3 separate regions of the Homo sapiens genome follow, and all the other regions are linked to region 3. The links come from fine-mapping of genetic effects on gene expression. A gene starts in region 3. Each other region holds a variant in brackets. All regions are shown on one strand. Distances are between the middles of the regions.

The links.
Region 1: its variant is fine-mapped to the expression of BSPRY in unexposed skin (GTEx, PIP above 0.99). The same link has a PIP of 0.9 or more in sun-exposed skin.
Region 2: its variant is fine-mapped to the expression of BSPRY in whole blood (TOPMed, PIP above 0.99). The same link has a PIP of 0.9 or more in blood mononuclear cells.

The regions. Positions count from the first base shown.
Region 1 is chr9:113,377,832-113,388,426 of GRCh38, reverse strand. It overlaps ALAD (aminolevulinate dehydratase), which reads left to right. Exons shown (of 12, transcript NM_000031.6): 12 at 66-2,115. The coding sequence ends at 127. Among named protein-coding and RNA genes, the nearest start is that of HDHD3, 6.1 kb to the right of the region's middle. RefSeq lists an enhancer at 7,275-7,334. The variant C/T (reference allele first, on the strand shown) is at 5,195.
Region 2 is chr9:113,299,839-113,310,433 of GRCh38, reverse strand. RNF183 (ring finger protein 183) reads left to right here and starts at 7,058. Exons shown (of 5, transcript NM_001371237.1): 1 at 7,058-7,378; 2 at 8,121-8,239; 3 at 8,683-8,762. RefSeq lists a cis regulatory region at 2,767 and enhancers at 2,683-2,852, 4,618-4,787. The variant A/G (reference allele first, on the strand shown) is at 5,756.
Region 3 is chr9:113,343,991-113,354,585 of GRCh38, reverse strand. BSPRY (B-box and SPRY domain containing) reads right to left here and starts at 5,045. Exons shown (of 6, transcript NM_017688.3): 1 at 4,806-5,045; 2 at 248-346. The coding sequence starts at 5,006. RefSeq lists silencers at 2,021-2,070, 4,698-4,977, 5,008-5,077.

The DNA of each region.
Region 1 (10,595 bases), 34 kb before region 3:
GCAGAAGGTGTGCTCAGAGCTGATCAGCGTCCCCCCAGCAACTTTCTGCATCTCTCCCAACACAGGTGCTGACATCATCATCACCTACTACACACCGCAGCTGCTGCAGTGGCTGAAGGAGGAATGATGGAGACAGTGCCAGGCCCAAGAACTAGAACTTTAAAACGTTCCCGGGGCCTCAGACAAGTGAAAACCAAAGTAAATGCTGCTTTTAGAACTGTGCCCTCATGCCCTCTTCCTGCTCACATGCTAGCGGGGCCCAGCAGCCCTGGGTGGTTTTGCCAGCATGCTAACTCTTGTAACTCGCAGCTGCATCCTATGAGCTCTCCCAAGCTTCCCCGCCCCTCCCCTGGGTCAGCCGTGAGGCCCACCTTTGCCACCCTCAGCTCTTTCCTCTGGTGTGGCTTCAGCTTGAAAGCAACCTGGAGTCGGGGGCACAGCCTTTGGGGCCTGGCTGGGAGAGGGTCTTGGAGCATTAGGGGAAGAAGAGAGCAGTGGGATCTTGGGGCCTGAGAAGCCTTGGAACGCTTCTGGCAGCAGAGCTGGGTGTGGGAATGAGGCCTAGATCGATATCCCTGGGTTAGAGTTGAAATTTGCCGCAATTCCACTGGAAGGCATTTCCCACGAGGCCAGAGGTTGCCAGGCTGCCTGAGGTCTCCTATTCTACTCTGAACCATAAACCCAGAGAAGAATTACTCATTAACCAGCATAAATACTGCCTGAGGATCAAAACTCAGAGGCAAAGAGGGAGTTCCTGACTGCTAGAGGTGCCACCACCACAAACACTTTTTATTCAGGAGATACTTTTTGAGAATCTCTGCTCTGTTCCTAGGTTCAGTGCTGGGTCCTGGGAATACAGCAGGACAGACCTCAGCTTATCTCTTCATAGAAATTATACAAAGAGAATTGGGGAGACAGCTAAGAAGAAAACAAAGAAATAAAGCAGTTACAAATTGTGATAAGTGCTTTGAAGGAAAGAAGGGGTCTGAGACAACAACAGGGAAGGGGCCTCTCTTGAAACAGTAGTTGGGAAGGAGGCAGACATGCACCAGTGATGTGGTGACAGGTGCTCTGAAGGAGGTCACCAGGACCTGACCTCTTTGAAGGATCAGAAAATACTTCCCTGAAGGACTGACATTTGAGCCTAGACCTGAAGGGTGAGCCATCAAGCTAAGACAATTGGGGAAGAGCATTCCAGGGAGAGGGAGGAGTTGTGCAAAGGCCCTGGGGCTCCTTCTAGCTGGAGGAATGCAAGGCTAGCTTGTCTGGAGCACTGAGAGGATGGCCTGAACTGAGTGGAGAGAGACAGACCAGGACCAAACCATGCAGAGGTCAAGGGCCACATTCACCTTTTCAGAGTGACTCAATCAAATTTGTAGTTTGTAAAAGTATTTTAACAGCTCTGCGGCAAAGTGCAAATGAAAAGTCTTGATGGCATGGACTGGAGCGGGGACAGTGGGGATGGAGAAAGGGGAATGGATTGTGGATGTGTTTAGAAGGTAGATTCGATGTGAAGGATGAATCTGGCTTGACCTTCTGGGTGGCTGATGGGCCATTTACTGAGATGGGGCAGCCTGGAAGAGGAACAGAAGCAGGGTCGGGGTGGAGGGAGAATACTAAACTTAGCTTGAGACATTTTGCAATAAGGAAGCTATATCTAGAGTGCTTATGTGACTCACCTAAGGCCACTCAACAAGTTTGTGGCAGAACTGGATTAGAACTGCACAGAAAACAGCCAAGCTGGGATTTGAACCCATGTAGTCCAACTCCAAGGCCTCTGCCCCTAACCACTGTGCCATACCACCTCCCAATAATCAACAGCAAAATTATAGGTCTAACAATGTTTTATAGACACCCCTCCATTTATGTGATGGGTTTGCATCCTGATAAACCCATCATAAGTTGAAAATATGATCATAAGTTGAAAATATGATCATAAGTCAAAAATGTATTTAATATACCTAACCTACCAAACATCATAGCTTAGCCTAGCCTGCCTTAAACATGCTCAGAACACTTACATTAGCCTACAGTGGGCAAAACTATCCAACACAAAATCTATATTGTAATAAAGTTGTAAAGAATTTTGAATAAAAATTCAATATTTGAAGTACAGTTTCTACTGAATGTCTTGTTTCATACTGTTGTAAAGTCAAAAATTGTGAATTGAATGATCACAGTTCGGGGACCATCTGCAATTAGCCCCAGTTATACGGGGAGACCAAGGAGACCAGGCACCTACTTGGTTGCAAGTGATGGAAATCCAGTTCAATAGCAAAGAAGGACATGATTGGTTTTCATAACTGGATTGAGATAAGGACAGGTGTGGTTGGGCCCAGGGTCAAACCCCATGGAGGTCTCTGTCCCTTTCTAACTCTCGTCTGTGTTTGCCCCAGCTTTATACTCAGGTGGGTTTTTGCCACTTGCCAGCAACATGATCCTCAATAATTCTAGGCTTAAATAGTCGTTAAGATTTGTAATCCCAGAGAAAGAGCCTTCCTGTCCCATCACTCACATAGCAAATCTCTGGAGGTCTCTGATTGGGCCTGTTCAGGCCACATGGTCCACTCTTGGCTCAGTCACTGTAAACAATGGGATGGGAGATGGCGCCACAATTGACCAGGTAGGCCTCATTACACAGAACGCTGTCTTGGACTGAGCTTTTGCACCAGTGGCCTCCTTGGCTTGGAATGCTTTTCCCCTAAATCTATATGGCTGTCTCTCTTGTTAAGATCTCAGCTCAAAGCATCCCTTCCTCTGAGAAACCTGACCCAACACCCAATCTAAAGTCACTCTTGGAGCTGGGCGTGGTGGCTCACACCTGTAATCCCAGCACTTTGGGAGACCAAGGCAGGCGGATCACTTGAGGTCAGGAGTTCAAGACCAGCCTGGCCAACGTGGCAAAACCCCATCTAGACTAAAACTACAAAAAATTAGCCGGGCATGGTGGCAGGCGCCTGTAGTCCCACCTGCTTGGGAGGCTGAGGCAGAGGAATCACTAGAACACAGGACGCAGAGGTTGCAGTGAGCCGAGATCATGCCACTGCACCCCATCCTGGGCAACAGAGAGTCAGACTCTGTCTCAAAAAAAAAAAAAAAAAAAAGTCATTCTCCAGTCACTCTGTATTAATCAGGATTCAGGTTCAGTGGATATAACAAAAGCCAAAATAATGATAGCTTGAGATGAAAATTTACTTCTAAGCAATCCAGGGCTGATATGTCAGCAATATGTTGTGAGGGGTCTCAGCTCTTGCCTTGTTCTGTCATCATCAACACATCTTGGCCTCCATCTCATGAACAAAGATGGCTGGTGCTGGGCACAGTGGCTCACACCTGTAATCCCAACACTTTGGGAGGCTGAGATGGGTGGATCACTCAAGTCCAGGAGTTTGAGACTAGCTTAGGCAACATGAGGAAACCACGTCTGTACAAAAAATACAGAATTATCTGGGTGTGGTCGTGCATGCCTGTAGTCCCAGTTACTCAGGAGGCTGAGGCAGGAGCGAGCCCAGGAGGTCAAGGATGCAGTGAGTGGTGATTGCGCCCCTGCACTCTAGCATGGGAAACAGCGTGAGACCCTATCTCAAAACCAAAACAAAACAAAAAAATGGCTGGGCCAGTTCCCATCATCAGGTCCTCTTTCCAGCCAGCAGGAAGAGAAGAGCAAATGGAGGGCATGACCCTTCTTTATAAAGTCATGACCCAAAAGTTGCACACATCATTTCTGTCTACACACCCTTGTCTCAAATTAGTCACATGGTCATGCCCAGTTGTAAGGGAGGCTGGAAATAGTCTAGTGGGCCAGCCATATGCTCAACTAAAACTCGGGAGTTCAGTTACTAAGGAAGATGGAGAGAATGGATAGTAAGGCAAATGGCCATTTTTACCTAATGGAGGTTCTTGGGATCACAGAAACAGTGGTCAGAATATTAAAGAAAAAAGATCCTTAGAGACTATCTAGTTAAACACTCTGATTTTATAGATGGGGAGACAGACCCAGAGAGGTGACCTGTCCAAAATTAGACAGCAATCTAGTCAGTGGCAGACCAAGGCTGGAATTCAGGTCTCTTAACTCCAAGCCCAGTGCTCAAAACTCGGGAAGGGGCTGGGCATGGTGGCTCACACCTGTAATCCCAGCACTTTAGGAGGCCGAGGTGGCAGGATTGCTTGAAACCAGGAGTTCAAGACCAGCCTGGGCAACAAAGCACGACCCCATTGCTACAAAAAAAATGTTTTTCAATTAAAAATAAAACTAGTGAAGGGATTCGTTTTAGAGGGACTTTAGCTTTATATGTATTATTTCTATTCATGTATTATATGTAACAAGGATATATTCATGTGTGGCTATGTAAATAAAAAATGAAAACTTAACCAATACATATATGAAAAGGTGTTATCTTCATTAGTGGAGAAAATTCAAGTTAAAACCGCAATGAGATACCACAATACATCCACAAAAATGCCTAATACTGGCTGGGTGCGGTGGCTCATGCCTGTAATCCCAGCACGTTGGGAGGCCGAGGTGGGCGGATCACGAGGTCAGGAGTTTGAGACCAGCCTGGCCAACATGGTGAAACCCCGTCTCTACTAAAAACACACACACACAAAAATAGTCAGGTGTGGTGGTGTGCGCTTGTAATCCCAGCTACTCGGGAGGTTGAGGCAGGAGAATTGCTTGAACCCAGAAGGCGGAGGTTGTAGTTAGCTGAGATCGTGCCACTGCGTTCCAGCCTGGGCAACAGAGGGAGACTCGAAAAAGAAAATGCCTAATACTAAAAGGACAATGGGACAATGTCAAGTGTTGAGAATGCAGAACAACTGGAACTCTCAGATATGACTGGTACACCCTTTCAAAATGCCTGGCTCCACAAGAACAAAAAAAAAAGAAAGAAAGAAAGAAAGAAAGAAAACAAAATGTCTAGCTCCAGCCTGGGCAACATAGTGAGACCATGTCTATACTAAAAAATAAAAACAAAAATAAAATTAGCGGGGCGTGGTGACACATGTCTGTGGTTCCCGCTACTTGGGAGGCTGAGGCAGGAGGATTGCCTGAGTCCAGGAGGTGGATGCTGCAGTGAGCCATGTTTGGCCTGCACTCCGGCCTGGGCTACAGAGGGAGATCCTGTCTGCAAAAAAAAAAAAAAAAGAAAAAGAAATGTCTGGCCCTATTTACCAAAGCTGAACATATGCATAC[C/T]TTATGACCCTGTGATTCCACACCTAGGTATTACCCAACAGTATTTACCCAACATTACCTATGTTCATAAGACACATGTTCAACAGCATTCATAGCAGCATTTTATAATATATGTAATAAGGCCGGGCATGGTGGCTCATGCCTGTAATCTCAGCACTTTGGGAGGCTGAGGTGGGTGGATCACCTGAGCTTAGGAGTTCAAGACCAGCCTGGCCAACATGATGAAATCCCATCTCTACTAAAATACACAAATTATCCGGGCGTGGTGGCAGGCACCTGTGATCCCAGCTACTTGAGAGGCTGAGGCAGGAGAATTGCTTGAACCTGGGAGGTGGGAGGTTGCAGTGAGCCAAGATGGCGCCACTGCACTCCAACCTAGGCAACAGAGCGAGACTCTGTCTCCAAAAAAAAGAAAAAAGAAGTGTAATAAACAAAATTGGAGATAACCCAAATGTTCATCAACAGTAAAATGTGGTCTATTTATATAATAGAATATTAAAGGTGTGAGAATGGATTAACTACAACTACACATAGCAACACAGATGTATCAAACACAATTTTGAGCAAAAGAAGCAAGGCATAAAAAATACATGCTATATTATTCTGTTTATATACAGTTCAAAAACAAATAAAGTTTAACTATGCAGTTTGAAGTCAAGATAGTTACCCTTTTGGGTAGTAAGTAACTGGAAGTGGACAGGCTGTGGAGGGTTCTGGAAATTGTTCTTTTTCTTGGTCTGGGTGCTGGTTGCATGGGTATGTTCACTTTGGGAAAATTCACATTTTGCATATTGGGATACTGAGGCTCAGAGAGAAAAACAATTGAATGGAGAGCTCACAGACAGACAGATGGCAGAGCTGGGATCAGAACCTAAGGGGTTAGGTTTTCGGTGACCCTGAAAAGTAGACAGTATCAGACATTCTTGGATTCTGTGAAATGCAGTTGAACCTCTGGTCTCCCAGTTGCCCTTCCCACCCCCACTTCTGCTTCATGCTTATAACACAAAACCAGTTTTGCAAGTGAGTCGGGCTCTCTCTTGCAGGTCCAAAGTCTGTGACTCTGCACTTTGTGTTTCTTCCCAGGCCTGAACCCAGTGAACAGACCAACTTGGAACATAGGAGAAAGTTTTGTTTTTTTGTTTTTAAGAGTTGAAAGGAAGAAAATTAGGCCAGGCACAGTGGCTCATGCCTATAATCCCGGCACTTTGGGAGGCCAAGGTGGGTGGATCAGTTGAGGTCAGGAGTTCTAGACCAGTCTGGCTACACGGCGAAACCTCGTCTCTACTAAAAATACAAAAAATTACCCGGGCACAGTGGCGCACACCTGTAATCCCAGCTACTCAGGAGGCTGAGGCAGGAGAATTGCTTGAACCTGGAAGGCAGAGGTTGCAGTGACCCCAGATCGCATCACTGCACTCCAGCCTGGGTGACAGAGTAAGACTCTGTCTCACAAAAAAAAAAAAAAAAAAAAAGGGCCAGGCTCGGTGGCTCATGCCTGTAATCCCAGCACTTCGGGAGGCTGAGGCAGGTGGATCACCTGAGGTCAGGAGTTCAAGACCAGCCTGGCCAACATGATGAAATCCTGTCTCTACTAAAATACACAAATTATCTGGGCGTGGTGGCAGGCACCTGTAATCCCAGCTACTCGGGAGGCTGAGGCAGAAGAATCGCTGGAACCCAGGAGGTGGAGGTTGCAGTGAGCTGAGATGGCACCATTGCACTCCAGCCTGGGCAACAAGAGTGAAACTCCGTCTCAAAAATGGAAGAAAGAGAGAAAGAGACAGAGAGAGAGGGAGGGAGAGAGAGAGGGAGGGAGGGAGGGAGGAAGGAAGGGAGGAAGGGAGGGAGGGAAGAAGAAAGGAAAGAAAGAAAGGGAAGGGAAGGGAGGAGGGAGGGAGAAAGGAAGGAAGGAGAGAGAGAGAGAAAGAGAGAGAGAGAAGAGGGAGGGAGGGAGAGAAAGAAAGGAGAGAGAGAAAAGAGGGAGGGAGACAGAGAGAAAGAATGAAAAAAAAAGAAAGAAAGGAGGGAAGGAGGAAGAGAAAGAAAGAAAGAGAGGAAAGAAAGAAAATTAGATACATGTTTGTGTGCTGCTAGAAAACTGTGTCATAGCATAACCAAAACTGTCACCTCAGCAATCCCTGGGGAGTGAGATGGGGTGGGGAAGCCCTTCTCTCCCTGCCCCAAGGCTACTGCCCTTGTTCAGTAAGCAGGCTGAGGCCCCACACCCTTCTTTCCGGTTCCTCACCTGGAGTACTTTCCTTGATCTTAACCTGACAACCTCCTTCTCACCATTCAGATCTTTGTTCCTTCCTTGACCACCTCATCCAAAGAGATACCCTGTCACTGTTCATAAAATGATTGTTTTTACCGCTTCCACTTCTCTCTCTGAAATCACTTTGTTTATTTATCTACTCAATGGTTGTCTGCCCCTCCCATGCCCCATGCAGGCAGGAACCACCTTGTTTCCCACTGAATCCTCAGAGAAGGACAGGGGACACAGAGCCCACAGATGTTAGGTGGTCAATGAATGAGGTTGGGTGTTGGTGGGGGGCTGGCTTTTTATTTTGTACACGTTTGTATTTTGCATTATTATTATTATTTTTTGAGACAGAGTCTTGCTCTGTCACCCAGGCTGGAGTGCAATGCTGTGATGTCAGCTCACTACAACCTCTGCCTCCCAGGTTCAAACAATTCTTGTGCCTCAGCCTCCCGAGTAGCTGGGATTACAGGCACCTGCCACCATGCCCCACTAATTTTTGTATTTTTAGTAGAGATGGGGTTTCACCATGTTGGTCAGGCTGGTCTCAAACTCCTGACCTCAAGTAATCCACTGGTCTCGGCCTCCTAAAGTGCTGCAATTACAGACGTGAGCCACCACACCCAGCCTGTTATTATTTTTTAACAAGATGGGGTCTCACTTTGTTTCCTAGGCTGGTCTCATACCCCTGAGCTCAAGGGATCCTTCCACCTTAGCCTTCCAAAGTGCTAGGATTTCAGGCATGAGCCACTATGCCTAACCCTGAATATGTCTGTATTTTTTTTAATAGGAGAAAAAGCATATACATTTATTTGATCATAGTTTTTTTGTGACATGGGAGCCTTCAGAATGAAGAGCCACAGATACAGAGGAAACTGTCCATTTTTATGCTTAGGTTCAACGAAGTGTACATGGCCGTGTATGTAGGGAAAAGAGAGATCAGACTGTTATTGTGTCCATGTAGAAAAGGGAGACATAAGAAACTCCATTTTGACCTGTACCCTGAACAATTGCTTTGCCCTGAGATGCTGTTAATCTGTAACTTTGCCCCAACCTTGAGCTCACAGAAACATGTGTTGTATGGAATCAAGGTTTAAGGGATCTAGGGCTGTGCAGGATGTGCCTTGTTAACAAAATGTTTACAGGCAGTATGCTTGGTAAAAGTCATCGCCATTCTCCATTCTCGATAAACCAGGGGCACAATACACTGCGGAAAGCCGCAGGGACCTCTGCCCTGGAAAGCCTGGTATTGTCCAAGGTTTCTCCCCATGTGACAGCCTGAGATATGGCCTCGTGGGATGGGAAAGACCTGACCGTCCCCCAGCCCGACACCCGCGAGGGGTCTGTGCTGAGGAGGATTAGTAAAAGAGGAAGGCCTCTTGAAGTTGAGATAAGAGGAAGGCCTCTGTCTCCTGCCTGCCCCTGAAACTGAACGTCTCGGTATAAAACCCGATTATACATTTGTTCAATTCTGAGACAGGAGAAAAACCGCGCCGTGGCGGGAGGCGAGACATGTTGGCAGCAATGCTGCTTTGTTATTCTTTTCTCCACTGAGATGTTTGGGTGGAGAGAAGCATAAATCTGGCCTGTGTGCACATCCAGGCATAGTACCTTCCCTTGAACTTATTTGTGACTCAGATTCCTTTGCTCACATGTTTTCTTGCTGACCTTCTCCTCACTATCAGCCCGCTCTCCTATCGCATTCTTCTTGCTGAGATAGTGAAAATAGTAATCAATAAATACTGAGGGAACTCAGAGACCAGTGCCAGAGCAGGTCCTCCGTATGCTGAGCGCCGGTCTCCTGGGCCCACTGTTCTTTCTCCATACTTTGTCTCGGTGTCTTATTTCTTTTCTCAGTCTCTCGTCCCACCTGATGAGAAATACCCACAGGTGTGGAGGGGCAGGCCACCCCTTCACATGTAGAAACAGGATTGCACAAAACGCTAATAGACTGAATAGAGAAACCCACCAAGACCCATCTGTGTAGATTCTTCTTGGCCTCTCTGTGCAGTGTTCCTTCCTCCAGGGTATGCGGCAAGACCCTCTCAAAGGGGCCTGGGTGGTGGGGGCTGTCTTATGACCTGTCTTGCCTAAGGTCATAGTGCAAGGTGATGAGACTAAAGAGGAACAGAGCACAGGCACAGAAGTATCTCAAAGCTTCCCCTCCGGTACCTCCCCAGCCTCTTTGGCCCAAACCCCCTGGCTAGCAACATTCCTATAGTTCCTCAGTGTCTCTTTGGTTCGGAAAAAAAACTTTCTTGCCTGGAGGCCTTTGCATCAGGGGGTCCCTTAACCATCACTCAGATCCTTCCCCTCTGCATGGCCAACTCTCATATGTTTGTATTTTTTAGTTTTTTGAGACTAACATGCATTACATGCATACCTTATTTATTTATTATTTTTTTATTTTTTTATTTTTTTGAGATGGAGTTTTGCTCTTGTTACCCAGGCTGGAATACAGTAGCCTGATCTTGGCTCACTGCAACCTCCACCTCCCCGGTTCAAGCGATTCTCCTTCCTCAGCCTCCCAAGTAGCTGGGAATACAGGCATGAACCACCTCGCCTAATTTTGTATTTTTAGTAGAGACGGGGTTTCACCGTGTTGGCCAGGCTAGTCTTGAACTCCTGACCTCAGGTGATCCACCCACCTCAGCCTCCCAAAGTGCTGGCATTACAGGCGTGAGCCACCGCGCCCAGCCAACATACATTACTTTTGCAAACAAAGATAAAACTCTTTTTTTATTCTTCAAAAGAATAAAAAAGCTCCCTGGTGGTCTAGTGGTTAGGATTCCAGGCTCTTACCACAGGGATCTTTTTTTTTTTTTTTTTTTTTGGGGACACAGTCTCGCTCTTTGCCCAGGCAAATATTGTGCAGTGGCAGAATCTTGGCTCACTGTAAGCTCCGCCTCCCGGGTTCATGCCATTCTCCTGCCTCAGCCTCCCGAGTAGCTGGGACTACAGGCACCTGCCACCATGCCCGGCTAATTTTTTGTATTTTTAGCAGAGACAGGGTTTCACCGTGTTAGCCAGGATGGTACCACAGGGTTCTTAAAAACAAAAAGAGGCCAGGTGCGGTGGCTCATGCCTGTAATCCCAGCACTTTGGGAGGCTGAGGTGGGCGGATCACCTGAGGTCAGGAGTTCA
Region 2 (10,595 bases), 44 kb after region 3:
CTGGTGGTAGTGGGCATAAAGGCTGAGGGGAAGGGGGCAGGTAGAGGTGTTTGTACCTATGGAATAAGCGACATGGGTTTAAACACCATGGACAGAAGGAACATCCAGCCCGTTCCCATATGTTATCTCTCCAGGTTCTGGAACATAACATCCTGCCTATTCAAGATCCTACAGACAGCAAATTGAAAATCCCAGCTTTGGGCCGGGCACGGTGGCTCACGCCTGTAATCCCAGCACTTTGGGAGGCCAAGGTGGGAGGATCACTTGAGGTCAGGAATTCGAGACCAGCCTGGCCAACATGGTGAGGCCCCGTCTCTACTAAAAATACAAAAATTAGCCAGGCATGGTGGTGCATGCTTGTAATCCCAGCTACTCAGGAGGCTGAGGCAGGAGAATTGCTTGAACCTGGGAGGCAGAGGTTGCAGTGAGCTGAGATCGCACCACTGCACTCCAGCCCGGGCCACAGAGCAAGACTCTGTCTCAAAAAACAAACAAACAAAAAAAAAACAAAAAGAAAAGAAAAGAAAAGAAAATCCCAGCTTTGGATCAGGGGGTTGGTGTTACCTGGCACTGCGTATTCAGATGCTGGACTCAGTTCACCTGGATTAATTTTTTGGTAACTGGCTAACTTCATGCAATAACAATGCAGATGTTTAAAATGAGGCTGCATGGAAGCTGTCTGTGATTCACCCTACATGAAAAACACAGGTAACAAAAACCATCGTACAGCATCATCCTATTTTGGTAAAAATATCTCCATACACATGTCTGTACATTCATAGATAAAGACTTGGAAGAAATGTGGCAAAAATACTAACAGTGTTGTATCTGGGTATTGAGTTTAAAGATGAATTTATTTTCTTCTTTGTTCCTTTCTATATTGCTTGATTTCTTTTGCAGTGAGGATGTACCAGTTTTTTTAATTTTATTTTTGAAATAGAGAATACATTCACAAAGTAATAATCAAGAGTCTAAAAGATTATACAATAAAAATTCTTCTCTCGTCCCTGTCTGCCTTCCATCTGGCTCCCTCCAGAGGTAAACAGTGTGACCAGCAACTAGTGTATCCTTTTAGAGACTTTATGCACATATAAGCAAATATATGTTTGTTTTTTCCTATTATCACTTTTACAACCAAAATACAATAAAACTACCTTGATTTTGAAGAAAAGGCTGTAGAAGACTCTTTGATTATATAAAAAGATGAAAAGTGAAAAACAGAGGCTAGAAAACTACATACAGTGTGACATTTTATATGAAATTATATAAAGTATATATATTATTTTAAAATATATAAAATATATATTTAAAATGTAAAGAGAGACAAAAGCTATAATCCAAATGTGTGGGCAATTATCTCTGTGTCTAAAGTTTTAGGTGAGTTTATTTGCTGTCTTTTTTTTTTTTTTTTTGCAACAGAGCCTCGCCCTGTTGCCCAGGCTGGAGTGCAGTAGCACGATCTCGGCTCACGGCAACCTCCACCTCCCAGATTCAAGCAATTCTCCTGCCTTAGACCCCTGAGTAGCTGGGATTACAGGCACGTGCCACCACGCCTGGCTAATTTTTGTATTTTTAGTAGAGACAGGGTTTCATCATATTGGCCAGGCTGGTTTCGCACTCCCGACCCTGTTATCCACCCGCCTCAGCCTCCCAAAGTGCTGGGATTACAGGTGTGAGCCACCGCACCCAGCCTGAAAACTAAGGTTTTCCATTAAATTTGGTGCCAAAACTTACCTGATCTTGTGATGTTTATTCTTTTCGGTGTCAATATTCATAATAAGCTGCAAGATATCAATGTTTGAATATAGGGTACTGCCCCAGATCCCACTGGGAGAATTGGGAGAGTTGGCAAATGCATCATCTTACCTTCCTAAAATTATGAAAAATTCTGAATTCTGAAACACACTTGGAACCAAATGTTTTGAATAAGGGATTGTGACTTGGAAAGCAAATTCAGATGCTGCACACAGCAGAGGCCGGGGGTGCCCATCCCCAGGCTGGGATTCACGTTGCCCTGCCTAAGGTGTCAGGTCCTTGGGAGCCTTTATGAATCTGAAGCTGAATATAATCAGAAGGCATCAAGGAGTATATACTGGAGGTATGTCTCCTAAATCAGTACTCTTCACTTGTAATGAATGTGTCTCTGAATCTCCCAGGGATCTCGTAAAAATGCAAATTCTGCCTCCGTAGGTCTGGAGTGGGTCTGAGATTTTGCATTTCTGTTTTTCTTTCTTTCTTTCTTTCTTTCTTTCTTTCTTTCTTTTTTTTTTTTTTTTTTTTTTTTTGAGACGTAGTCTCGCTCTGTTGCCCAGGCTGGAGTGCAATGGCACAATTTTGGCTCACTGCAATCTCCACCTCCCAGGTTCAAGCGATTCTCCTGCTTCAGCCTCCCGAGTAGCTGGGATTACAGGTGTCCATTACCACACCCAGCTGATTTTTGTATTTTTAGTACAGATGGGGTTTCACCATGTTGCCCAGGCTAGTCTCGAACTCCTGACCCCAAGGGATCTGCCTGCCTCAGCTTCCCAAAGAGCCAGGATTACAGGTGTTAGCCACCATGCCCGGCCAGATTTTGCATTTCTAACAATCTCTAAGTGATGCCTATGCTGCCGGAACTGTCCTAAATGCTAGACAAGCCTCAGGCAAGGCTCTGAGTGATGATGACATGGTGGCCCCCTAGGGAGAGTTGCCCTCTGCCCTTGACTGGGGCCTGCTAAACACTGACCATGCCGGATTCTAAACCTGCTGCACTCATCACCTTTTCTCCATCCTTCTGCCCTCTGCCACCTCTTCCTTCCCAGATGAGTTAAAACCACCCCACGCCTCTGCTCCAGACATTGGCTGGGCTCCACCGAGTCTCATGACTCTTCACTCACCCGGGTCTAAGGTACTGCTTAGGTGAGGTGCTTTTCCAGATGGCTGATCTTGCCCCCACAAGCATGAACTTTATAAATTAGTTTAACTCTCAAGTTCCTGAGATGCCTCACTATCTCTCCCGGGTATCTCCCTGGAAAAATTTTTCACTGTTGGCAAAGCACTCCTTAGCCTGACCACCCACAGACATTATGATAATGCATAGACTCACTAGACAATTAGTGACCTGGAAAAAAGCCATGACTTTTTAAATTTTATTTTATTTTTCTGAGACAGAGTTTCGCTCTTGTCGCCCAGGCTGGAGTGCAATGGCGCGATCTCGGCCCACTGCAACCTCCGCCTCCTAGGTTCAAGTGATTCTCCTGCCTCAGCCTGCAGAGTAGCTGGGATTACAGGCACCCACCACCATGCCTGGCTAATTTCTGTATTTTTAGTAGAGACGGGGTTTCACCATGTTGGCCAGGCTGGCCTCGAACTCCTGACCTCAAGTGATCTGCCTGCCTCGGCCTCCCAAAGTGCTGGGATTACAGGCCATGCCTGGCTATGACTTATTTTATTTTTATTTCAATGCTTACAATGTCATGACTGACTTCTTACCTGCCCTACCTGCTTATCTTTTTAAGTTCTGGATACCCTGGTTGCAGAAAACTCAGACTTAACTTACTTTCTAAGTGAACTTTCTTACTACAAAAGTAATACATATTTGAGAACTTGGAAAATGTAAGCAAGAAGAAAGCGAAAACATGAGTGGCCATCACCCAGAGATAAAATTGTGACATTTTGCCTCATGGTCTTGCAGTCTTTATACATAAATTATGCTTTACAAAATCTGGCTTATGCTACATTCTCTCTTTCTTTCCTTTTCTTTTCTTTTCCTTCCCCTCCCTCCCTCCCTCCCTTCCTTCCTTCCTCCTTCCCTCCCTTCCTTTCTTCCTCCCTCCCTCCCTTCCTTCCTTCTTCTTTCCTTCCTTCCTTCTCCCTCTCTTTTCTTCTTTTCTTTCTTTTTTTCTTTTCTATCTTTCACAGGGTCTTTGCTCTGTTGCCCAGGCTAGAGTGCAGTGGTGCAATCTGGGCTCACTGCAGCCTTGACTTTCTGGGCTCAAGTGATCCTCCCACTTCAGCCTTCTGAGTATCTGAGACAACAGGCATGTGCCACCACGCCCAGCTAATTTTTTATTTTTTTATTTTTTGTAGCAATGGGGTCGCTAGTCTTGAACTCCTGGGCTCAAGCAATCCTCCAACCTCGGCCTCCCAAAGTGCTGGGATTATAGGCATGTGCCCAGCCAACATGCACCGTTTTTTTGTTTTGTTTTGTTTTGGTTTTGGTTTGTTTGTTTGTGTTTTTTTTGAGATGGATTCTCTCTCTGTTGCCTGGGCTGGAATGCAGTGGTGCAATCTCGGCTCACTGCAACCTCCGCCTCCCAGGTTCAAGCGATTCTCCTGCCTCCTTAGCCTCCCAAGTAGCTGGGATTACAGGCACCTGCCACCACGCCCAGCTAAGTTTTTTTTTTTTTTGTATTTTTTAGTAGAGACGGGGTTTCAACATATTGGCCAGGCTGGTCTCAAACTCCTGACCTTGTGATCCGCCTGCCTCGGCCTCCCAAAGTGCTGGGATTACAGGCGTAAGCCACCGTATCCGGCCAACATGCACCATTTTTAAGCTGCTTTCCCCCTCCATTTACAGTATACTGTGACCATTTTTAAAAGTCAATGAAAATCTTTCTATATCATTTTAAATGATTATGTAGTTTTTCACCTAATTGATGGGGTTTTGGAGTGTTTTCAATCATTTGTGATTAAAATAAAACTGCAATGAATATCCTCACTCAACCAAAATATATCTTTTTGATGCTTCTGGGGAATTACATGATTAGGTCAAAGTAGATGAACTTCTTTATGTTTTCTTATGTTGCCAAGCCAGAAAGCGTGACTTCCAAACTCTCAAATACAAACCAGGTTCTTTGGACTAAATCAGTGTCTCGAATCCCCAGTAACCTCAGTTAACCAGTAGTGACACCGAAAAGCAGGGAATTCCAGAGCTGAGAGGAACTTTGAGGCCATCGGTGATCATATACCTCGTCTCCAGCTCAGAAAGAGGAGAATTACTTAGACATTTTCTTTAGAGATCTAAAACTTCCCAAAGTCCACAGTTTTATTTTCACACAATTCTAGGCTAACTTAAAATCAGCATTTTTGCATTATTCTTTCATTCAATATTTATATATTTATAATGAGGGGGTTAGATCAATAGGGGATTGGTGAAGTGATTTATGGTACAGCCATTCAATGAAATCTGATACAACCATTAAAAAACCGAAGAAGGTCTTCTTTTTTTTTTTTTGCTCTGTCGCCCAGGCTGGAGTGCAGTGGTACAATCTCAGCTCACTGCAACCTCTGCCTCCCAGGTTCAAGCGATTCTCCTGCCTCAGCCTCCTGAGTAGCTGGGACTACAGGTGTGCACCATGACGCCGGCTAATTTTTGTATTTTTAGTAGAGACGGGGTTTCACCATGTTGGCCAGGCTGGTCTTGAACTCCTGACCTCAAGTGATCCACCCGCCTTGGCCTCCCAAAGTGCTGGGATTACAGGTGTGAGTCACAGCGCTGGGCCAAAAACCGAAGAAGGTCTTTATGTACTAATACAGAATGATATCTCAAATACATCATCAAATGAAAAAAGAAAAATGCAGAACAGTGTACATAATATGCACATTTGTGTAAAAAGGAGGTAAAGGAATACATAGATGTTTTGCCATGGACATGCTGTTTGTGTATGTATAAAACATCTTTGGAAAGATACACAACAAACTGATAGTATAATACTTTGATTTCCAGGGAAACTAGGTGGCTGCGAAGAGACAGTTTTCACTGTGAAATCAAACC[A/G]TTCACATGCTCAACCATGTAAATATATTACCTATTTAAAAATCAAATGTGGGCACGGTGGCTCAAGTGTAATCTTAGCACTTTTGGCAAGTGGATTGCTGGAGCCCAGGAGTTTGAGACCAGCCTAGGCAACCTGGAGAAACCCCATCTCTACAAGAAATACAAAAATTAGCCAGCCACGGTGGCATGCACCTGTAGTCCTAGGTACTCAGGAGGCGGAGGTGGGAAGACTGCTTGACCCCAGGAGGTTGAGGCTGCAGTGAGCTGTGATCGTGCCACCGCACCCCAGCCTGGATGATAGAGTGAGACTCTGTCTCAAAATAAATCAATACATAAAAATTAATGTAAAAAAACACAAAATGCGGGGACTAGGGCATTTGATTACATCACCAAGCAGATACATTTATTTACTTGTTTATTTCTCAAGTATGGCTGAAAATGTCAGTAAAGAAATAAGGGGCCAGGCGCGGTGGCTCATGCCTGTAATCTCAGCACTTTGGGAGGTCGAGGCAGGTGGATCACCTGAGGTCAGGAGTTTGAGACCAGCCTGGCCAACAAGGCGAAATCCTGTCTCTACTAAGAATGTAAAAATTAGCCGGGCATGGTAGCGCGCACCTGTAGTCCCAGTTACTCGGGAGGCCGTGGCAGGAGAATTGCTGGAACCAGGGAGGTGGGGGTTACAGTGAGCCAGTATCGCCCCACTGCACTCTAGCCTGGGCGACAGAGCAAAACTACGTCTTAAAAAAAAAAAAAAAAAAGAAAGAAAAAAAAAAAGAAAGAAAGAGAGAGAGAAAGAAAAGAGGACCATAGGTACAAAAAGAATTTGAGCGGGAACAAAAGATGGGCCACGTGAACAGACCGGTTATAACAATAATAGTTCTGGTTAACATTTAGCGAGTTACTGTCTGCCAGGCCCTGTGTTATTACGCGATCTCGACACGTATTACCTCATTTAATCTACAGATCAAGTAGGTAGGTTATTATGGCCATTTTCAGGTGAGGAAACTGAGGCTGGCAGAAGTTAATTAATTTGCTCAAGTCTCCATCGGTAGTTAAACGGAGTTTGGATTCTCAGTGAGGGCTGAACTCTGACCTAGAAGTGTGCCTTGCTTGAGAACCCTGGCTCTTCAGGCAGACGCTCAACCGTCTCCCGACTATTTTTCTGCTGTATTAGTGGCCGCTTTTGTCAGTATTTTGCAAGAGCTATCTGTATTTTGGTTACAGGGACTCAGCATAGGGAAGGATCCATCTCGGCAGAAGCCAGGAGTCGAGGCAGGTCAGCGCACAGAGGACAGTGGAATCCGAGGGGATGGCAGGAGATCAATCGGACCCAGAACAGAGGCCTGCAAGGATGAGCGCACTTGATCCCCTCAGAGAAAAAGCCAGAGTGACTCACAGGAGAAAGACAAAGCAACCAAAGCTTCCAGGGTGTACAGGAGGTCCAAAGTCACCAGAAGGAAGAAGAAAACCTGAAACAGCGAGAGCTGGCCAAACGCTGCTAAGACCTATGCAAATAAGACCCACCCACGCTACCTGGAAATCGGGCCTGGGAAGTCAGAAAACAAAGCACATGCGTGCAGGGCTGCACGAACGGAGGCGGAGGAGGCGGCTCCGAGGGAGCAGGTAAGGAGACAGAGAGGGTCGCGGAGGGACGGGTCACAGGGCTCCAGAGTCCAGAGAGGCAGCAGCCGTGCAGCGCGCGACAGGTGAACTCTGGCCTGGGAGGGCAGGCTACTGGGTTCATCTTTCAAACTCAGCCACTCTTTAGCTGGGAAGACTTCGGCAAGTTGCCTCACCCTTCTGAGCCTTGGCTTCCCCATCTAGAAAATGGGTCTAAAAATAATCATGCTAACTCTGTATTGAGCGCCTTCCGTATTCTACTGGGCACCGTATAGACTATTCCTTCCCCAGAGCAACCTTGTAGGAGTGGGATGATTAGCCTTTTTTACAGAGGAAAATGAAGTTCAGAGAGGTTAAGCCATTTGTCCAAGACAAATTGTTCCAAATCTGGTTCCAAAGCCGGCACCTTTCTACTCCCCATTCAGCCTCTCTCACAGGGTGGTTTTAGAGTATCAAATGGCTTTCTGCAAACAACAACAAAAAATCCCAAAAGGCTAGTAACCTATCTAGATGGATCACCACACTTAGATCTTAGCAAGGGCCAGGGCCCTTTGTAAACTGTGAAGTGCTATGGAAATGCCAGTTCTTGGTTGAAAACAATGGAGTGATGCTGGGGACAATTGATATTTGGCGATGACTTGTTCATAGACCAAGGAGATGACTTTGGGGCGGTGTTTAGGATTTACTGTAGCTGAGATGTCCTGGCTTGGGGTGGAGGTGATACATGGCCAGAATCTCTCCCCAGCTGATCCTGAAACAGCAGTGGATCCCTGGGAGAGCAGCACAGATAAAGATCCAGGCAATAATGATGCTTCCTCCTCTTGGACAGCCTTTTACAGTTCTGGCCATGGAACTTCAGAGAAGGTAGGTCTGATTTGGGGGGAAACAGGAGATCTTGACGTGTAGTAATACAAGCTTACTGGATGGAGTAAAGTTAGAATTTTCAGGTAAGAGAATTAAAAAAAAAAAAAAAACTTATAATCTTGCCCCCAGAGATAACCACTGCTAATATCTGGTTGTTTATCTCTCCAGACATTTTTTCCATTGCACACACACTTTTGGAAATTGGATTATATGGTAATATGGTTTTGTTGCTGGTTCTTTTTCGCTTAATGACATTATATCCTAGGTATATATCCATATTAATAGTTTTACCACATCATATTAAAGGCTGCATAATATCTCTTCCTATGGATGGAGCAGAATCTACTTAATCAATGTCCTATTACTGGATGATGACGTAGTTCTCCATACGTCACCGTTAAACCAGCGCCTGGATGGGCATCTCTTTACTCACATCTTTGCAGAAGTCCTTGATGGTTTCCGTGGAATCGATTCCCAGTGGGGGAAATGATGAGTCAAGGTTACATACAGTTTACGGCCTCTGGTAAGTATTAAAGATCTGCTTCTAACACACTCTGGGATTCAGGGGCTTCTCAAAGCTTGATGCAGAGGACTTTGTCACGGCTTTGAAATCAACCTTGACCCTTCCTTTCTCTCAAATCCATTTGCATTAATAATTTCAACTGCCTCATATATCCATAACAATGTTTTGATCAACAGTGAATTACATATGTGATGGTGGCCACCTAAGATTATAATACCATATATTTACCTTGCCTTTTCTAAGTTTATGTTGAAAGACACACGCAATTATCATTGTGTTACAATTGCCTACAGTGTTCAGAACATAATAAGCTGTATGGGTTTGTAGCCTAGGAGCAACAGGCTAGACCGTATAGCCTAGGCATGTAGCAGGCTCTACCATCTAGGTTTGTGTAAATACTCTCTGTGCTGTTCATACAACGATGTGTTTCTGAGAACATAGTCCCATTTTTAGGTCATGCATTGCTTTGTGGTCTTTACTGGGTGCTGGGCTCTAACTAAAAGCTTTACTAGTTTTGGCTTCCTTTGCACAAGGAGAAATAGAGGCACAGAGAGGTCAAGCAATTCAACTGGAATCACAGCCCTAAATAGCCATGGATCTGGCATCATGAACCTTGACAGAAACTACAACTGGATCCCTAGAACTCCACTGCTTCTTGGGAAGTGGCTTTGATTCTGTCCCCAAAGATATCACTTATCCCATCCCCTTTTATCTCCTCTGCCACTGCCTAACCTGCACCACCATCACACGCCTGAGCCACACTGCTGCAGCCCGAACGGGTGTTCCCTTCCCGATCTTATCCCTCTCAGCCTGTCCTCTGCTCTGCAGCTAGAATGGTGTTTTAAAAATGGAAATAGGATCAGGTACCTTACCCTACCGCTCACCCCTGGAATAAAATCCAGATGAGCTCCTGAGTTCACAGGTCCCGAGTACTATACCCTCCCACCTTGCCTACTCCGGTCACCACACCTTGATCACCCTGGGCTCCTTTCACTTTCTCAAATTGGAAGAGCTTTTCTCACCTCGGGGCCACACATGCTGTTCCCTGGGCCTGCAACGCTCTTCCTCCACTGTGCGTGGCTGGATTCCTATATACTTTGGTCTCAGCTCTTCTGTCATCTCTTTGCAGAAACCTTCTCTGGTGGTCTCATTGGGAGCAGCCACCAAGCACCCGAAGCCCATTTTCCTTTTTGCCCTTTATTAACAACCATTAAAATTGTGTATTTATTTATTGCCCATTATTCATTAAATGTCTTTTTGCCTCACTACACTCTAAATGTCATGAGGTCAAAGACAATGTCTATTTTGTTCACCATAATACCTTGCACAGCACCTGGGCTAGAGTAAGCACTCAATAATGTCCGAGTGGATGAATGGACTGCAGAATAAAGCACTGGTGCAGAGCCCTGCTAAACTACCCTAGTTTCGCTTAGGGCTCCATCTCCCTCTGCATATCTTCATTTCCTCCTTCCCTGTTTGGAGCAGTGCCAGAGGTCTAGAAGAAAACCAGGAAGCCACAGGTCCGAGAGTATAAGCAGGTTTTGCTTCAGACATCGGCTCAGTCGGGGTAGATGATGTCATATCAGGGGCTCTAGGGAGACTCCCTTCCCCCAGATCCCCTCTTCCACAGTTCCTGGATTTCTACCATGAGTCTTCTGGCCGTGAAGGATTCCTGATCACATGCAAACACTTATTATCTAGCTAGTAACACGCACTGAGTAGGGGGACGGCATGGATGCAGCCTTCTGTCTTTACGAAAACCATGAGTCTGAAGACATGGGTCCCATGTCACCATTAACTAGCTGGGTGACTTTGGGTGAGTCACTTCTTGTC
Region 3 (10,595 bases):
CTTCTTGATCCCCTATGCCAAGATACCCAAGAAAGTCATTTGCTAGCAGAGTCTTTGCACCAAGTATGGTACAGGAACAAGCCCACCCTGCCCAGATGGTAAAATTGAGTCTCTGAGGGATGAGAAGCTTTGCTAGTAGCACAATGAGTCTGTGAGGTTGGTAAGGGACCCTAGACTTGCCCAAGTCCCTAAGTCTAAGGCCTTATCCTGGGAGGGGGCTGAGTAGAGAGGAAAGAAGAGGAATTACCACTGCTCTTTGATTCTTCCCCGGCAGGACGTCCGCCACATACTTGGTGATGGCAGCACTCTGTAACTGCAGCCTCTCACACTGGTCCACAATCTTGTTCTGCAACACAAACAACGCTTGTGGCATCTTGGTCCATGTACCTGAGCCATTCACTCCATCCCAGTGATTTTCTCCTGTTACCACATGTCAGCCACCCACTCCCATGGTCATAGCCCAGATCTCATCATTATCAAAAACTGTACCACCTCCTAAATCTCCATTTCAAGGATCCACACTCTCCCCACCATGCCCTATCCTTCTCACTCCCTAATTCTAGGATACCTATTCCAGCAACAGCTCAGTTGAGGCCACCAACACACTAGTGGGACTACCTTTCACTGTCCATCATCCCCTTCTGTGACCTCACCTCCGTCTTCATCCCAGAACCCCAGCCTATCATTATAATAACTTTAAAACAAATTTTTGCTCTATGAATATTCTCAGGCTATATTATTTAGAAACATTTAAGATTAGAATCATTATATGTTGCTGGTGAACTGCACATTCTCTAAGTGACTTTATCTTTAGTACTATGTTTGCCTTAAAGTCCATTTTGTCTTGTGTTTATTTTTATTTTTTTTTATTTATTTATTTTTTGAGGCAGAGTCTCACTCGGTTGCCCAGGCTGGAGTGCAGTGGTGCGATCTCGGCTCACTGCAACTTCCACCTCCCAGGTTCAAGCGATTCTCCTGCTTCAGCCTCCCAAGTAGCTGGGATTACAGGTGTGTGTCACCACACCCAGCTAATTTTTGTATTTTTAGTAGAGACAGGGTTTCACCATGTTGGCCAGGCTGGTTTCGAACTCCAGACCTCAGGTGATCTGCCCGCCCTGACCTCTCAAAGTGCTGGGATTACAGGTGTGAGCCACCGCACCCAGGCGTTTGTTTCTTTTTAAATTTATTTATGTATTTATTTTGAGATAGAGTCTTGCTTGTCGTCCAGGCTGAGTGCAGTGGCATGATCAAGACTCACTGCAGCCTTGACCTTCCAGGCTCAAGTGATCCTCCCATGTCCTTCCTGAGTAGCTAGAACTACAGGCACGTGCCACCACACCTGGCTACTTTTTGCATTTTTTGTAGAGATGGACTTTTGCCATGTTGCATAGGTTGGTCTCCAACTCCTGGGCTCAAGCAATCCTCCCGCCTCAGCCCCCCAAAGTGCTGGGATGTTACAGGTGTGAGCCACCACGCTCAGCCCGTTATAACCACTTTCTGGCGCACACACTCTTGGTCCTCCGTCATACTCAGCTGCCTGACTGTCCATACCTTCTGTTCTGTCCAGAACTGCTCTCTGCCAAGTTATCCTCATTCATTAAGCAGCACCATCAATCATTCACCTGTTACCCAGACCAAAAACCCAGGAGTTTGTCTCCAACCCCACATCAATTCCATTAGTGAGTCCTATCAACCCCATCTCCAAAGTCTCTCTCTCTCCTCTGGTCACCTCTACTCCAGTTATTCTATCCAGGTTGCCATGATCTCTCACAGGAACCACTGTTAGAACCTCTTAACTGGGTACCCTGCACCCCCAACCCCCCAGCTAGCCAGAGCCACCTTTTGTAAGGAAATCAGACCAGGTCATGCCCCTACTCAAAACCCTCCAATGGCTTTCAGTACACTCACAATGACATCAGGCTTCTTAGCTTAGCCAACCTAGCCCCACCTGATGTGACTCAGCTTATTTCTCCAACATCACTTTCTACCTCTATCCATGCTGGCCTTCTTTCTGTTCCTTAAATGTACCAAACTTGTCCTGACTTCAGTGCCTTTGCACCTGCAGTTCCGTTTCCACCAGTCTGTGTGTGTGTGTGTGTGTGTGTCTCACTCCCCAACTGCATTCAGATGTCATCTCTTCAGAGAGGTCTTCCCTGACCATCTCCCTCCTCACCCAATCTCTTACTTTGCTTTATTTTTCTCCCTTGCACTTATAACTCTCTGACTATATATTATGTGTTTGTTTACCTTTTTGGGTATCTGTCTCCCCCACCACTGGAACAGAAGCACCATAAGTCTGACTTCTCTATGTCCTAGTACCTCAAAGAGAGTTTCTGAACATAGAAGGCCCTGAATAAATATTTGTTGAATGAACGAACACCCACTGCCTTGACCACAAGAGGTTCAGCAGTTCATGGCTCTCAAAGCTATGAGCATCATCCATGAGCTCAGGGGAGTTTTAGAAATGGGAAAGCTGGCCGGGCACGGTGGCTCACACCTGTAATCCCAACACTTTGGGAGGCTGAGGTGGGCGGATCACCTGAGATCAGGAGTTCGAGACCAGCCTGGCCAACGTGGTGAAACCCCATCTCTACCAAAAAATACAAAAATTAGCCAGGCGTAGTGGCATGCGCCTGTAGTCCCAGCTACTCGGGAGGCTGAGGTGGGAGAATCTCTTGAATCTAGGAAGCAGAGGTTGCAGTGAGCTGAAATAGCACCACTGCACTCCACACTCCAGCCTGGGTGACAGAGTGAGACTGTCTCAAAAATAAATAAATATAAGTAAATAAATTTTAAAAAAAAAGGAAAGAGAAAGAAACGGGAAAGCTGAGGCCCAAAGAGAAGTGACTTCCCCAAGAAGGTATGGGCCAGGGCCCTGCTTTTGCTCTCCGTTTCTCCAGGTGATACCTAGAGCCTATCCAAGCAGCAGTCCCTCCACTGTTCCCCCTAAGAGTTCTGCCTCAGTTCCATCTGCCAAAAGGCAACTTAGCTACCTCTTCCAGGAAGCCCTTGTAAATCTTTCCACCCAGAAGTAGAAATTAGTTACATTTCATAGGTCCAAATACAAAGTTACAGAATTGAGTTGACTAGGAGGAAGCTGTGATCACCATGCACCATGGACTAAGAGCACTGAGAAGGCTTCTGAAAAACCACAGGGCAGGAATCCAGAGGTAGGAGAGCAGTAGAACTGGTGCTGGTTTTGGTAATAATCTTGCCCTAGGGTGAGATTTATTTGCTGACTGGATGGATAGAGGAAGGAATGTGCAAAAGACAGAAATCTACTCTAATTTGGTGGAAGAGAGGGTAAGACCCACCTCCCTTCAGGCAAAGGAGATAAATATGCATACGGCCTCAGAGGGGTTCAAAGAAGGTTCCCTAGGGTAGTACCGAAACTAGCACCAGGCCTGCCACCTGCCCGAGGCTTCACTCTTTCCACCACTCAAATCCAGTCCTGATAGCTACTTTTAAGGTTTCCATGACATTCTCACCCCCATTAGCATCACTTCCTCCCTCCAACCGCCGAAGCAAAGCAGCAGTTTCCTCTTGCCTAGTCAATGACTCCCTGGGTCCCACCCCTGAACATTAGGAAGCTTGGAGGAGTTACTGCCTTGTTCCGAGCCTCCAGTGCCTCATCTGTAAAATGTAGGTAGGACCCCTTCAAAGGCGTGGTCAAGACAGAATGAGATGACAGACATTTAAGTACTTTGGAGTTTGCAAATTTTTTTGTCCATTATGCAAGTTGATTACACCGCGTTATCCAGGTTTATTTTTGTCATCATTATTGTTGATAGAGGTAACAGGTAGGACGAACCAGGAGCTTTTGGGTGTTGCTGAAAAACTGAACCCCTCCCGAGCCCAGCACCCTATATAAGATGTGTTTATTACAGGTCACTCTGGGTAGGCGAAGTCCCCAGCCAGAGCCCTCAGGCTTCACAGCAGGGGTGAACTGCAGAGTCGGGTTGGGAGAAACAAGCTGTTTAATCAAATTGCAAGGAAATCCCCAGGGGCCACAGAGAAGCCCAAGGTGACTTCGACTCTCCCAATCTCAGCAGCTCAGGAGAATGGTGATGACAAGGAGGTGGCCACCCTGGAGCCGAGCTGGAAGTGGAGGTGGCGAGAAAGCCTGGGTGAAGGGGAATCCCCTGATATTCTCCCTACCCCCACCGTTTATCCAGCTGAAGCCCTTAAACCAGCCTGAAGTACAGTCAAGGCCAATCCTGAAAGCGAAAAAGAGATCACCGCACCAGAAGCCAGAAGGGGTTAGGAGCAGGGGGAAGAGGCGAAAGGAGGAGGGGGGCTTTGAGTCCAGGGGTTAAGGGATACGGTCGCGCTGGATTTTATCAGTGTCAGTTTCCACAGGGGCGGGAGCTGGGGCACACCCTGCGCTGAGAACTGGAGCAGCTGAGCCTTTCATGCCAGCCCCAGCTTCCTCAACAGAGCAATGGAAGGGGCCTGGGGAGCCTGGATCCCCTTATCGCTAAGCATTTTACCCACTATCTTATTTATTTCTCACAACTCTAATAAATACGCGCTATTATTATTGTTGTTGTCCCCAAACTACAGATGAAGACACTGAGGCTCAGAGTTACGTGACTCACAGGGAGTAGATTCGAACTCAGGCCAGCCTGACTTCAGAGGCCACACCCTTAACCGCCTAGTCCTACAGCCAAAGCCACCGAGGAGCCTAGGCTCCGGGGCCGGGTGTCGAGTCCGCCCAGCCCCAGGCTCCCCAGTCCCTGCCGGGTCCCGCCAGGCGCGCCCGGGGTCTCCGGAGCCCTCGCCTTCCGGCGCCCACACCCGCTCACCCGCAGCTCCTCGGCGCGCTCCTCCGCCCGGCGGATGCGGTGCCCCCGGCAGCGACCGCCCAACCCCGCGCAGGCGGCGCACACGGGCCGTCGCTCGGAGCCGCAGAACCAGCTCAGAGCCTGGCCGTGTTCGGGGCAGAGTGGCCCCGGCCCGGGCCCGGACCCGGACCCCGGCCCCGGCTCCGCGCCCTCGGCGGACATGGCCGTGCGCCCGCCCCGTGCGCTCCACCTGTCGCAGGTGGCGGCGGGCGGGGCCTGGCTGACCCCGCCCCCGGCCCTCCCGGTGCGCCAGCGCGCCCCGCAGCTGCGCCTCCTCCCACCCAACCCGCGCTCCCATCCCGCCCGGGGCAGCAGGTCTCTTTAAATTCCTTGTTGAATGAAATCGCGATTGTATGCGTATTTGTTCTACAACAAACATAAAACTCCAAATATTACTGTGACCGTAGGAAACTTTATTGAGCACTTATTAAGTGCCAGGCTTTCGCTGAGAGCTTTGCAAGCGTTCTGTTATGTAATCCCGACCACTGCCCTTTTTGAGAGGCAGCTTTAGATGCCTAGCTTCAAGCAAGGCTCTGCTGAGAAACTGCCTGGTTCAAATCCCGTTTGGCTGCTCACTGGGTGGGAACTCCAGCTGTAAAATGGGGTGAGAGTACCTGCCTCCCAGACGTCTGAGGAGTAAATACGCTAAATACGTAAAACAATATCTGGAACATAGCAGCTGCAATCGCTAAGTGTCTACTAACAGTGCGAGGAAAGTACTATTAGGATCCCATTTTTATGGAAGTTAAGTGGCTTGCCAAGGGTCACAGTTACTAATTGGTAGCTATGAGATTGGAACCTAGGCAGTGTGACTTAAGGTTACTATAATTAATAATTTTTTAAATTGAACATTGAGGCCCAGTGAGAAATATCTGTATTAGGCTGATTTTCCCAAAGTATTTACATCCAAACTTTTTGAATTTGAATATTTGAGTTTTCTTTTTAAACTAGCATTGAAAAAAAGTAATGCCTTTTTATTTCGAAGAAAACAAAATATGCAAATAAGCATGTGGAAGAAAAATCCACCCACTCCCACCCCAGAAAGAAAAACTGCTAACATGTTCCTGAGCTGTTTAGGGCTTTTCCCACCCTCAGGATCTTATATATTAGTCTGAGCCCAGATTGAGCCCTCTGCTGGGGATCCAGTCTAGTCTGTCTGGGCATACAAGGAGAACGCTGCTCTCCAGCTCTAAATTCTTCTTCTTCTTTTTTTTTTTTATTTTTTTTTATTTTTTTGAGATAGGGTCTCACTGTGTCACCCTGGCTGGAGTGCAGTGGTGTAATCATAGCTCACTGCAGCCTCGACCTCCCCAGCTCAAGTGATCCTCCCACCTCAGCCTCCTGAGTAGCTGGGACTACAGGCACATGCCACCGTGCCCAGCTAAGTTTTGTATTTTTCGTAGAGACAGGGTTTTGCCATGTTGCCCAGGCTGATCTCAAACTCCTGGGCTCAAGCCATCTCCCCCCTTCAGCCTCCCAAAGTGCTGGGATTACAGGTGTGAGCCACCGCGCCCGGCCACCAACCCCAAATTCTTTCTTAGGAGTCTTGGCAGAAAGCTGGGCACTCTCTCAAAAGGGGAAGGGCCCAGGCCTTCAGGTGTCAGAGAGTACTCTGAGTGCATCAGAACTGAACACAGGCGGGAGCTAAACCGAAAGAGAAACATTACATCCCATAGCTCACAGGGGCTCTAGCACCTCTACTCTGAAGCTTCTCTAAGCAATGGCCACACAAAGGAGATAGAACCCTTTCCTTCTCAGCCACTACTGCTTTAGCACCTGAGGGGTAAGGGCAGCTAACAGCCCCAGAGCTACCCAGAGCGGTACACAGTGGTGTCATCATCCAATGGGGACACATTGTCACCCCAGATAGACAATATTACACCATATGATTAGAGAGAACACTGAGTGAAATATAGTCATTGGTTTCATCCCAGCTATGCAGCTTACAGCTATGGGATCTTGGTCAGGTTACTCACAGCTTCTGTGTCTGTTTTCTTATCTCTACAACAGAGGTGATAATAATACTATCATCTACCTTAGAGGGCTACTTCAAGAATGAAATGAGATCTTGTCTACAAAGTATTTACTTTGGGTGTCTGATATACAGTAGGGGATAATAAAAGGTTTTATTATATGTGTGAGGATCTGTAAATACAGTTGTAGCAGGTTTCAGAATGTAAATTGTGTGAGGTTCTTTGGCGACAGGGGTGCTGCTTTCCTGGCATCTAAAGAAGTTTCCAGTGCATCCCAGTGGGAGGGTGATGGCCTCATAACAGCATCTACACTCCTCTGGGGGTGGGGAGGGAAATAGGCCATGGTAATTAGAGATTGTGGTTAGAATTTTTTCCTTCTAAGGACTGGGGATGGGGAATTATTAAACCCTATGGTGAAAACAAAGAAAATAGGAGGTGCTTTTTGTGTGAAGGCTAAAAAGAAAAGAGGTTGTGTGGCCAGGAGCAGTGGCTCATGCCTGTAATCCCAGCACTTTGGAAGGCTGAGGCAGGCGGATCACTTGAGGAGTTCGAGACCAGTCTGGCCATCATGGTGAAACCCCGTCTCTACTAAAAGCACAAAAATTAGCCGGGCATGGTGGTGCACACCTGTAATCCTAGCTGCTGGGGAGGCTGAGGCATGAGAATCGCTTGAACCCAGGAGGTGGAGGTTGCAGTGAGCTGAGATCGCGCCACTGCACTCCAGCCTGGACAACAGAGCAACACTCTGTTTCAAAAAAAAAAAAAAAGAAAGAAAGAAAGAAAAGAAAAGAAAAGAAAGAAAAGAGGTTGTGGAGGGCAGGGGGAGGAACAAGGGTTAAAATCCTTAGGGAAAGGTGGGGGGGGGGGAGGGGGGCCTTCACTGGGTGTGGCCCTAGAGCAGTCATTGGCCCTACCAGGTCCAGGATCTGGAAAACAGCCCCTAAATCACCAGAATTACTTTCAGGTAGTGGCATCAGCAAATGCAAAGGGCTAAGGTAGGAGTAGATTTACTTTTATCAAGTCGGGTTCCTCTGTTTCACCACTTATGAGCCAAGTTGGACTGGAACTGGAGAATCGCCCTTTCCCTATCTGTTCATCAAGCCCTGCAGGACACATCTGGGATACTCATAAACTCCCCGGTTATAGCTCTTAAGCTTTATCAGGCTTCGGAATCGTTGGAGGACAGGGGATGGTCAGGAGGGGAAAGAGGAGGAGTTGTAAAACACGCAGACTTTCCGGTAAGATTTTCATCCATTAAGTCTGGGATGAAGCCAAGAAGCTGCATCTGTGGCAGTCACTCCTTGACTAGGATGCAAAGGAGCCCCTTGACTGTTTCTAGAAACACTGCCCTAAGGCAGTGGCAACCCTTTATTAGGTGGCATATCAAGAAATTCAAGGGGTGGAGATCAGCATCTTTTATAAAAAGAAAGAAAAGGCTGGGCACAATGGCTCACGCCTGTAATCTCAGCATTTTGGGAGGCTGAGGAAGGTGGATCACCTGAGGTCAGGAGTTCGAGACCAGCTTGGCCAACATGGTGAAACTCCGTCTCTACTAAAGATACAAAAACTAACCAGGCGTGATGGCACATGCCTGTAGTCCCAGCTACTTGGGAGGCTGAGGCAGAAGAATCACTTGAACCCGGGAGGCAGAAGTTGCAGTGAGCAGAGACTATACCACTGCACTCCAGCCTGGGTGGTGGGTGACAGAGTGAGGCTCTGTCTCCAAAAGAGAAAAAAAGAAAAGAATAAAGAACAGAAAACATGCTCTTAGTAAGGTTTTTGTTGTTTCAATTACATATATATAGGTAAACAAAATGGATGGAAGGTCGTTGTTTTGGACTGGGCTTCCACACTAGGCCCCACCATACCAAACCAAAACAAAATGGAGTTACTCATGCTAAACTGCCACTTCACCAAACCAAAACTAAGTAGTTTATCTGAACTTCCAAGAAATTGGGAGAGAAAAAGAGAAAGAGAGAGCATATTAAAATCCCCAAACAGTACAGAATTAGCTGGCATGATAAGGAAGTCCTCTCTGTTTTAACCCTAAAAGGAAAGTAACTTTGAAATGAGTAATCCTCTTTTTTTTTCCAGCTCTTTTCTACCTATAAAGCCCATGTCCTCTGTTCAGCTCATTGGAACATTCTGTTTTATAGAATTAGGTGTTGCCTGATTCTAGAAGTGCTAATAAAAGCCAATAAGATCACTCAACTACATTTGTTGTAATTTTGTCTTTGGCCTATATATACGTACATATGCACCGTGGAGAATGAATGTACTTCTTTATGAGGTCAAAAAAATTTGAAAGCTGCTTAGAGCTCTTAGGGGACCTCTGGAGGCTTCATGGGCATAGGCAGGGCTGTACTTGAACTTCAGGCACTCTGAGCTAGGGAGAGAAGAATGGACACCATTGTTACATTTTAGTCATTCAACAGATTTATTGAGCCCCTGCCAATGTGCCAGGCCTTAGACACTGGGGATACAACAGTCAAGAAGAACAAAGTCTACTTTCATGCACAAATAAAATGCAACAAATGGATATGTAATATAATGTCAGTAATGATAAGGGCTATGAAAAAGATTCAAGTATTACAAGAAAAAGAGCATGATGGAGGTGCTGGTGTAGAAAGGATGGTGTAGAAGTCCTCTCAGGTAAGTGGCACTGGAAGAAGCAAGGCATGAAAACATCTGGGGAGGAGATTTCCAGACAGAGGACTAGCAAGTGCAAGATGTCTTTCTGTACCATGAACTCTGCTCCCCAATCTTCAAAGAACCTCACACGATTTACAATGTGTGAAAAACTGCTACAAATATACTTACAGGTCCTCACACATAGGTTAAAGCATTCATTAGCTCCCACTATATGATACAAGCTGGAACATATTTATTTTACAAAATTGGGATTATGTGTACAACCTGCTCTCTAACCTGCCCTTTCACTTGCTCATTTATAACATTTGGCTTGGATCTTTTTTAAAAAACTTTAAAAAAAAAATAACTTCTGGGCCAGGTGTGGTGGCTCACACCTGTAATCCCAGCACTTTGGGAGGTCGAGGTGGGTGGATCGCAAGGTCAGGAGATCGAGACCACCCTGGCTAACACAGTGAAACTCTGTCTCTACTAAAAATACAAAAAAAAGAAAGAAATTAGCTGGGTGTGGTGGCAGATGCCTGTAGTCCCAGCTACTCGGGAGTCTGAGGCAGGAGAATGGCATCAATCCGGGAGGCAGAGCTTGCAGTGAGACGAGATTGCACCACTGCACTCCAGCCTGGGCGATAGAGCGAGACTCCGTCTCAAAAAAAAATAAAAATAAAAATAAAACAAAAAAAACTTCTGTAGAGACCTGAGTCTTTTTATGTTGCCCAGACCGGTCTCAAATTCCTGGCCTCAAGTGATCCTCCCACCTTAACCTCCCAAATTGTTGAGATTACAGGTGTGAGCCACCAGGCCTGGCCTAAACTTTTTATTTTAATGAACATTTTGGAAAGTCTTTTGGAAAGGACTATTCTTCCCTAGCCTTTACTTTCCCTCAGGCCTGCTCCTCGGTGTCAGGCCCAGCCTTTTCTGCCTGCCTGGTGGGGCCCTGGCCTGGCCCAGCCCAGCCCCCTTCTGCCTGGGCCTGTGTCCATTCCTCCTTCCTTCTCAGACACTGATCCAATATCTCTGGTGCCAGGGCTGGAAGTCATCTGACTGGGGTTTGCATGGTTTCCAGGAACAGCAATAAGACTACCAATACTGTGGCTTCTTTTCCTCCTGGGGTGTTTTCACAGTACAGCCA